Homo sapiens: one gene and its partner. The protein of the gene in region 1 purifies or fractionates together with the protein of each later gene. This does not show direct contact. Each region holds a gene or a part of one and is shown in the gene's direction. Other genes may lie near its edges.

The links. The genes of interacting proteins can lie anywhere in the genome.
Region 2: the proteins of CDON (region 1) and PTCH1 purify together in Homo sapiens (co-immunoprecipitation; one study listed by IntAct). This does not show direct contact.

Annotation. Positions count from the first base shown.
Region 1 is NC_000011.10:126,051,899-126,057,359, reverse strand, and holds part of CDON (cell adhesion molecule-related/down-regulated by oncogenes isoform 2 precursor), read left to right. Parts: exon of another isoform or gene 1-1,361; intron 1,362-5,461. UniProt on the Homo sapiens protein: Component of a cell-surface receptor complex that mediates cell-cell interactions between muscle precursor cells. Promotes differentiation of myogenic cells.
Region 2 is NC_000009.12:95,501,770-95,506,277, reverse strand, and holds part of PTCH1 (protein patched homolog 1), read left to right. Parts: intron 1-4,508.

The DNA of each region.
Region 1 (5,461 bases):
TATTTATGTATACAGTACTAATTCATGCTTTGTAAATTGTTGTAGAGTCTTTTGTGCGGTTTGAAATTCATAATAATTCATTTTATTGGCACATTGGATACACAGTCTTTGGGGGAAAAAAGAAAATAACACTTCTTCCTACATTACTAGAAAATCAGATCCCAATGGCTATCTTAGGAAAACAACCATGACCTCATTTTTATTCACAGAACTGGGTTTATTCACTACTTGAAGGTATAATTACCTTCAGTTACAATTCCATAAACCAAATACTTTGAAAACTGTATTCATTTTTATGTGTGTGTTTTTAGGAGGGAGCCTCAAAATAGGGGAAAAGGACCATCTAAGGTAGCTTATATCCTTCATGCTTAGGACTAAATGCCGTAATCAACACTTAGCGTTGTACAGAAGTAACCACCAGTCCAGCATTAGTATAATATTCTTTGAGTTTAAAATGAAACAGTACAATGCTTTTCTGAAGAAAAAAGAAAAGTCCACCATAAAAGGAAGAAAGTGGAGCTAGGATGTTATACTGCAGGAAGATTTTGAGGAACAGGACCAAGCACTTATATCAGGAAGAAGAGTTTTGGCCACTAACCTATTAACAATTGTGGTCAGGCTATGCCTATACATTCAGAATTTGTTTGTATTGTTGAAATTCTCTAATATGCTAAATAAAATTTATTTCACAGACAGACAAGATGATTCAGTAGATGAAATCAGAAGGGTTTTTGTTTGTTTGTTTTAAATTTTGGAAGGGACTTTGGCTGTGGTTAATAGCTTGTATTTCTGTTATTGGAAATGTTGATTAAGGATTTTGTGGGTGTTCTGCTTGAACACTAGCCATTTTTCTCTCAGGAGACATTGTATTTTTCAACATTTATAATTTTATTAAATCTGACTATTCATAGCTCTTGACACAAGGTCATTCTTCACATACAGCCATATGCAGGATGGGTTCCTCTGGACTGGAGAAGGGCAAATTGTCCCCTTTTCTTCCTAAATCAGACCATCCGTGGTCAGGATTTCATTGGGGGTTGGGAGCGTTGAAATAGTGATACATGATTCATCTTTTGATCTATAGGCGTCCTCAAAGATGCAGATTATGTTTCAGAAGAAAGAAGAACTATCCAACAAATAGAGCTGCCTCATGTGAAGCAGTGCTGTTTGGAAGGGGCATGGACTCCTGATTCCTGGAAGTGTTGTAATGGCATTTGCAAAGGCTGCTGTGGGAAGAATCTCTTTCTTGGGTGCAACATTGAACCAAATAACCTCTAAGGCATTTGTAGGACTGAGGTTCCATGAAATAGGCTTTTATGGTATGCCTAGGCTACATACCCACCACGTACATGATTTTGGAGGTAGGAAATATGTTAAAAGTTACCAACAGCCATTGGATAAATACATTTTTTAAACCAGCTCCAGTTTAAAGTTGGAGATTGCCTCGACTTGCTGGCTCTTTTCACTTTAAATGTAATCCTTAGTTTATCACTAACAAGTAAATGTCGGGTATTCTTTCTTCCTTACTTAAATAGGGACTTTTTCAATATTCTAAGTGTATTGGTATCAGAAATGATAATACTTAAAAGTATAGCATGTACTACCTTTTTATATAGGTACACATCTGAAGCCATTTGTTGGCCCAGTTATTTATTCATTCCTACAACAAATTATATGTAAACATTAATAAATGTCCCTCTTGTCCCTCCTCCACTGCAACTTTTCTAAACTTGAGTTACAAGAGAGATAAATAACTCATATAGGAGGAGAAAGGCCGGTATCAGAGACGTGTCCAAGTATCAAAACCATATTCAAGATCTTTTCTGGGATCCATAGATATTTAACCATGTACACATCTTGTATCTGTAAATATAGTACTTTATGTTAATCACTGATATTTAAAATGATGGAAGGAACTGTGGGATCCTGAACCACCAAAATAATATTTTCTCCATTTTATAAAACAGAAAAGTATATTGAATTTTTACTGTTTTATATTTATGTATGCCCATCCATACCAATTCCATCCTCCCTGTAGCTTAGAAGTGGGCCTTCTTTATCTCTTGTCTGTTACCATTACCTTACCCCTCCATCCTCCTCCTCAAACTTTGGGAGAGGGACAGAGGAGATTCAGCATGTGAGATGAAAAAAATGCCTTTGCAACTCCTGCTTAAACTGCTACTAACTCATCCCCTTGTCTTCAGTTTTGGTTTGCCCCCTTCCAGATCATTGATTTTTCTTACATTTTGCCTGAGTAATGATCTTTCTGAAATGTAAATATGTGATCACGTGACTGCTTTCATTAAAATCCTTTAAAGTCCCTGAATTGCTCACTTGTTGAAGCCCAGGTCTTTAATTGGATGTACAGGGTTATATGCCTACTGGAAGCTTCTGCCATCCCGGCTGCTTTGCCTTCCATGAATATACCATGCTTTCTCGCAGGCTGGAAACGCATCTCTCCTGGCACTGATACGTATCATAATTGCATACGTGTCAGTCTCCCCTTTATTCCTTAAGGACAATGTGATTTTCCCCTATGTACCATTGGCCCACCCACCCCTTTCTTTGCACTCTGCTGAACAAGTACTAAACACTCAGATATCCTGGATGGCATTAACGTGCATTTGAATTTCTGGGTGAGCGAGTGTGTTCAACTGCATATTCTGATTCAGTAGGTCTGGGGTGGGGCCCAATATTCTTCCTTTCTAACAAGTTTCCAGATAATACTGATGAGCTGGGTGGAGCACACTGAGTAGAAAGATGCTGAACCATCTTCTCTAGATCCATGAATGATTTCAACACACGATTTTGCTCGTAAAAATTCAGTGACATCAATGACTCTCAAGTTCAGGGAGTGATACCACAGCTTCAAGTAATGAAGATAAACGAAAGCTTTAGATAAAGAAAAAAACAGTTACATATTGAAGATGCTGGGACATGCATTATCACACTATGACTGGAATCCTTGTCAAATATTTTGAATATTTTAACAATTTTATATATTTAAAATGTATGTAGTAGTTCTGTGCAACATTATTCAGTGCCCAGAGAGCTGATGTCATGTTTTGTCTTTTTGTATTTTGCAGGGGTTCTCCTGGGTATATAGGTACTAAAAAACATATTCAGGATTGTGTCTCTTGCCAGGGAAATTTCTGACAGTTACTGGCTTTTTACAGTATCAGAATAAAAGTAATTAGAATTTTTTATTTTACTGTAGTTTGGTATCTGTTCAGTGAGTAATTGTACACACTGCCTGGTTAGAGGTAAAATTGGCAAGGGGAACGAATGTTTAATGGATAAAATACTGCTTTTATCAGGCCATGAAATTATTGTAGTGACATCAGAACTTGGCAGTCTCTTATTCCAATAAAAAGAAAAATAGCATTGCAAGCTGGGGATAAGACATTTTTCCTGCCCATTTAATTTGGCTTCTTTTCATGATTTTGGCCTTAGGATGTGGGTATGACAAAACAACAACACAGTGAATAACAGGCAGTAACAATTAGGGAGTGAGCGTGGTTTCAGCTGGAATGGACATAGGGTTTATCAGTAACCTCTGTTTCCGTCATTCTCACTGTCCCTCTCCTGTTGGTGACTATGAGAGTATGAGAGTGGGTATGGGGAATCCTCGTTTAGAAAATGGGGTTAAACCTCACCATGTGGCTCGATATGGTATGCAATACATTACATAGCTTGCAATGTATTGAAAACATCTGATACTGGCTCATAAAATGATGATGTGGCTGAATGTCTGAATGTGATTATGTATGTGACAGTACAGTTTTGCAGGAAAGGTGCCATTTATCCCTCTGTGTAAAAACACCAGTCAAATAATATCAGATGACCGATCAGAGCGGTTGGATTTGATTTAGTGTTTCCTCCTTCCCATTTCATCCTATGCACTCTCACTGTGCAATTAGATTTCTAGATGTGGCCATGATATAACGACAGCTCATTATCAGGATTTCGGTTTGGTGTCCTAGCATCCGAGCAGTAGTTCCAGTAAACCCTGGGACTACTAAATCTGGAGGAGGTATTTTTATAGTTCTTAATAGATTACTAAACTCCTGAGTAGGGCCACATTAGAGTCTTAACTGCTATGTTGTACCCATGATTTACCTCCTGGGTGCATCTTACTGTGTGATCGCCTTTTTAAATGGGGTCATTTTATTGTTTCTTCCATTAAATCTTGGATGTTCATCCAAAAGGAAATGGCAGGTTTTCTTCTACAGTAATAAGAATTATAGTGAGGTTCTGCTGAGTTGGTTCTGGTGGGTGAAAGCATATTTTAAACCTAATTGTGAATACAGTCGTCCCTCAATATCCATGGGGGATCCATTCCAGGACATGACACCCCCTATTGCCTGTGGCTATCCAAATTCTTAGATGCTGAAGTTCCCTGTATTTGCATATAACTTATGCAGATCTTCCTGTTTAAATCATCTCTAGATTACTTATAATACCTAACACAATTTAAATGCTATGTAAATAGCTGTTATACAGTATATTTTTAATTTTTAATTTTTTTTTTTTTTTTGAGACGGAGTCTTGTTCTGTTGCCCAGGCTGGAGTGCAGTGGTGTGATCTTGGCTCACTGCAACCTCCGCCTCCCAGGTTCAAGCAATTCTCCTGCCTCAGCCTCCCAAGTAGCTGGGATTACAAGCACCTGCCACCATGCCCGGCTAATTTTTGTAGTTTTAGTAGGGACAGGGTTTCGCCATGTTGGCCAGGCTGGTCTTGAACTCTTGACCTCAAGTGATCCACCCACCTTGTCCTCCCAAAGTGCTGGGATTACAGGCGTGAGCCACCACGCGTGGCCTGTATTATTTTTTATTTTTATTTTCCAAATATTTTTGGTCTGTAGTTGGTTGAATCCCTGGATGAGGAACTGTGGATACCAAGTGTCAAGTGTGTATACCTCTACTTAACATATTTTCAAGTCATATTATAATTTGATTAGAATTGTTCTGATCTCTAAATCAGTAGTTTGATTTCTGTTTATTGAAAATTAGGCATACTTTCTTTTTCATAGTATGAGTCCTTTTTAAGGTTACAATAAAAGTAAATAGATCAGATTTCTACCCTGAGTTCCCAATTCCAAGCTCTAGTCACCATGTTTTAAATTATTTTATATTTTGGTTGGGTTCCTCTCTTAAAAGAAATTGCAGTAATCATGTTTTGACTGTATGTAGGTCTTTTGTATAATTTTCATAATACATTTAGAGCTAAAGTTTTTTTTGTTTTGTTTTGTTTTGTTTTGTTTTGTTTTAATCCCATGGCTAACTAAAGCCAATTTTGAGTCATTATGAGATTGACTGTTAACTGTGGTTTCCTATTAGGCTAGCAAACACAATTGATGTTATGTGTTATTTCTTTTGCGTTTGAGGATGCATTTTAAAAGAGCTATTGTTGGCCAGGTGCGGTGGTTCATGCCTGTAATCCCAGAACTTTGGGAGGCTGA
Region 2 (4,508 bases), on another chromosome or scaffold:
GTTTATTGTTTGGGCGCCTGGCCGGGAGCCAGGCCCGCCCGACAAAGGCCGCGCTGTAATCTACTCGGGGCGCTGCGCCGGCCGAGGTGTGGTGGGAGAGAGCGGCGGGGGCGGGACGGGGGCGCGGGGCCCCTCCGGGACGGACCACTCTGCGCGCCGGGGGCCCCGGGCCCGCCGCCGCTGCCGCTGTCCGCCTGGGCCGCGCCCCGAGAGGCGCCCCGGGGCTGGCCTCTCCCGGCCCCGCTCCGCGGCCCGGCTTTCTTCTCTCCCCCACCCCCACCCACCGCGTCCAAAGAAAAAGGAGTCGGGGAGAGCCAGAGGCCACCCCTCCGGCTGGCTGGAGTGTGCGCGCCCCCGGCGGCCGCGGCCGCCGCGCTGGGGAGGGCCGGGGGCGGGCGCAGCGCGGGGCTGCGGAGGCGGCGGCGTGTGTGGTCCTGTTTTTGGACAGCTTTCAACTCTGAGGGAAAAAAACATTTGTCTCAAGGTACAAAAAACGCGGGGTGGGGGTGGAAGGAGTGGAAAAAAAAATAGTAAGGCACAGACTGGAACGCATGTTTGCAAAGTAGATTAATGTTTCCTCGCGGGTGGGGGCTTTTTACATGGAATTATTCTGGGGGAAGGCTGCATTTTGCAGGCAAAGAAAAGAAATGTTTTAAGAACGCGGGGTTGAAGGGACCTCTCAGAGGGGTTCTGCCAGTCTTTTATCCACGTTCCTCAGTTTTGGGGTTCTTGAGACCTTAGCAAAGCAGTTGCAGATTTAAAATAGATATATATTTTTTCGAAGACAAACATTTTTACATTATTTTGGTGACAAAGGTTTCAATTTTTTTCCCCCGCTGGTTTCTTATTTATCTTTTTGGCAAGTTCCAAATCCTGCTATTTGGAAACACTTTAACCCTAAACACCACTTTGGGCATCCCTTACCTTACAAGAGGGTAGTAGGGGAGGGTAGAGGTGACTAGGTAGATAATTCAAACCAAAATACCTGGAGCATTCCTCCGGACAGCATGTGGAAGCTGAAGAGTTATGCGCATAATCGCTTCAGTGATCCCTTTCAGGATGCTGTTGGAGACCTTGAAGAATATTTCCTTAATCTCTCCTTGTTTGTGAAGATTCAGCTTGCAGAGTTTTGCAAGCCTGGGGTGGAGTTGGAGTATTTAGTTGAGAAGTGACAATTAAAATAATAGTCTACATAATTAAGACAAAACATTCCTGCCTTAAGTAGTTTGGTAATTAATACAAAAGCGTTCTTTGGATTGAATCCATGGAGTAATTTACCTCAGTTCAGCGATTCAGTATCACTGGTAGATAAAAGAAGGGTTTTATCGAGCAGCTATTATGCTCCTAGCAACAAGTTTCTTGAGCACCTATGATGTCCCTAGCACTGTGTTAAGCACCATAAGAGACTCAAGTGTGTGCGACACTGCACAATTTAAAACTATTAGAATTCGATGCATTTGGACTACATTTGGGTTCACAGCTGAAATGGGCTGTGAAAGTTACAAGAGGGTGGTAGGGGGTGGGGGGAGAGAACTGGAGACGGTAGGGGAAGGAGGGCATTTTAGGCATGGGCGGGACACCAGCAGGGGCCCCAGCTGAGGAGTTTGGAAGTGATGTGATTGGCTAGACTGTAGGGGCGCTGCCGTAGATTCTAGGACAGAATAGGGCATGAGGACAGGGAGGGCCGCTGCCGTAGATTCTTGGACAGAATAGGGCATGAGCACAGGGAGGGCCGGCTCATCCACCACTTGATCCAACCTGTATTTGTTGCCATCGGATGAGGATGACAAAACGTGATTTTGTGGTGTTCTTAGCAAGAGTTTTCAGTGGACCTTTGACATGTTGAAGGAGATAGAATGTGATTTATTTTCTTAACATTGCATATTTCTGGAAATAACTTGCTTTCTGCATAACACGACCCATTTCAAGTCCTGGAAGGAGATGCAGTGTGCTTCCTAGCAGTTTTATGGGAGCTGCCAGTTGTGTAGTGAGAGGGAGTAAAGTTTTTCTTTTTCAATGGACTGGATGAGGACACTTCTGAGGGGCACACTCACTTTGCTTACTTTTGGCAGTTTCAGCATGACTCACTGGTCTTGGGCCAAATGTTATTTACTCAGTACTAATACTGTCACTTGTTGAGCAACTGCCATGTACCAGGCATTTGTTATATATTATCGCATGCCTTACGATTCAATAAAATAGCTATTATTATCTTTTTTTTTTTTTTTTTTTTTTTTTTTTTTTTTTTTTTTTTTGAGACGGAGTCTCGCTCTGTCGCCCAGGCCAGACTGCGGACTGCAGTGGCGCAATCTCGGCTCACTGCAAGCTCCACTTCCTGGGTTCACGCCATTCTCCTGCCTCAGCCTCCCGAGTAGCTGGGACTACAGGCGCCCGCCACCGCGCCCGGCTAATTTTTTGTATTTTTAGTAGAGACGGGGTTTCACCTTGTTAGCCAGGATGGTCTCGATCTCCTGACCTCATGATCCACCCGCCTCGGCCTCCCAAAGTGCTGGGATTACAGGCGTGAGCCACCGCGCCCGGCCCTATTTTGTTTTTATAACATGATAGTGGATGTAATGTCTTTATGATGAGGATTGTCCCATTTTACAGATGGGAAACTATGGGTTGTCTGTTTGTCTCCAGGTCTACTTTGCCTACTAATGACATAAGTCACTTGTTCTGTTGCCCTGTCCTTGATCTCTCATTCATTCATTCATTCATTCATTCTGTGCTAGATTCTCCCCCTAGAGAAGAAGCGACAGTTTCATAAATGCAGATAGACCCAACTAGAGAGGTGACTATACAACAGTAGCCATATAGATTTAATTTCATTTTCAAAGCAGAAGTGATTGTGTAGAGATCTTGTTTGTGACAGAGTGAGCTGAGTGTTCACGTCAGCAGTAAGTAGTGTGAGCATTTGCATTCAGGAGTAAGATTTCCCTGCTGTCCTATACCTCAGTGGACGTCCGTGAATTGAAGTGAGTAATAGCTCCACATTTAAGTTCATTTTGTGCATCAGTCTCATAGATAAATTCCTCATCACTATCAGCAAAGAAATCTGTTAGATGCTGCTTTCTTGGTAGGTTGTTCTTAAGGTTCTAGACATGAATTTTTATATGAACTGGGCATCAACAGAGTGCTTGCTACACAAACGAAATGGATAGAGGTAGCATATTGCCCTAGTTAGAAAACAACAGAAGAGAGGAAAGTATGAGATTTTAAGGGGAGAGGGATGCTGAGGGATAGTTTGGAAGAAGCTCCTTCTCCTGCGGTTTAAAATCACAGGAGCGTGTGTGTGTATGCACATTGTCTTATTCTGCATATCCTCCTATCTGCCAAAGGCATGTTAATGTTATCTTTTTAATACAGCCAGCAAATTAAAGGGATCCACTCGAAAGGCTGTGTCTTCAAATTGACTTTCATGCTTTGTTTAACATGCTGGGGAAATGTGGCTTTATAAAGAGTTGGCTTTATAAAGAGGGCAGAATACATCAGCCACAATGTGCAGACTAATATATGCTAGATGAGAAAGAGTCCGTGTGTGTGCATGCGCGTGTGTGTGCGTGTGTAGGAATTGGTGATAAGAATTATTGTATTCTGTTGTTAAAATGTCCATATAATGATTGCCTTTTAATAAACTGTCAATTATATGTTAAGATACCAGCTTGAGTTTTAGGGTTATAGTGTTTGCTAATCAAAATTGTCAAATCAGTTTCACATATGTGCGGAGTAATGAGGTTTGATAGAGAATATGTTGACTGATGTAGTGGACATCTGCTGTTGCAGAAACACATGACCATGGCAGCAAGGTGGGGGAGAAACTAATTGTCATTGTATAAAAATAGAAGCGTTCATTCTGCACATGTTCTCAGTACCTACTCTGCACCACCATTGCAGAAAGCTCTCCAGAGAGATGTTGGTGAAAAGCCACAGTCTCTGCCCTCAGGGGAACTCCATCCAAACATTCAGCAGGTACACGGACTGGTGTGTGGGTAGTTAACATGAAGGACAGCAGTGCCAAGATGGCAGGAAAATCGGGGACATCTTCCAGGATGGCCTCAAGGGTGGAGGCCTGAGCTAGGCACAGGGGCTGGAGGGGAGAGGGTAGGGGGCATTCAGGGCAGAAGGAACAGCATAGGCAAAGGCTCAGAGAACAGGAATGTGGCCTCCTGGAGGGCAGCCTCCCTTTGTGGGTCGTTGAGGTTGGGTGGGAGCCTGGAAGCTGGGCTCGTCCCTCAGGGCCATTTCACAGAAGTCTCCCTGCTTGGCTGGGGGCTGTCAGCTCTTCCTACTAGCCATCCCTGTCTCACGAGTGTGCTCACGTGTTGGCCTCTAGTGTTTTCCCTGGAGCCACGAATGCTTCACCTGGATCTCACCTTTCTGGGCACAGACTGGTGTTATTTTTAATCTTGCCTGTTTCTTTGTTGGTATTTCCTTTTTGTTAAGCAGTTTTAACCCATCTCCCTCAGTATCTATTTCTTTTCATATCAGCCCCCTCACTGCAGCCC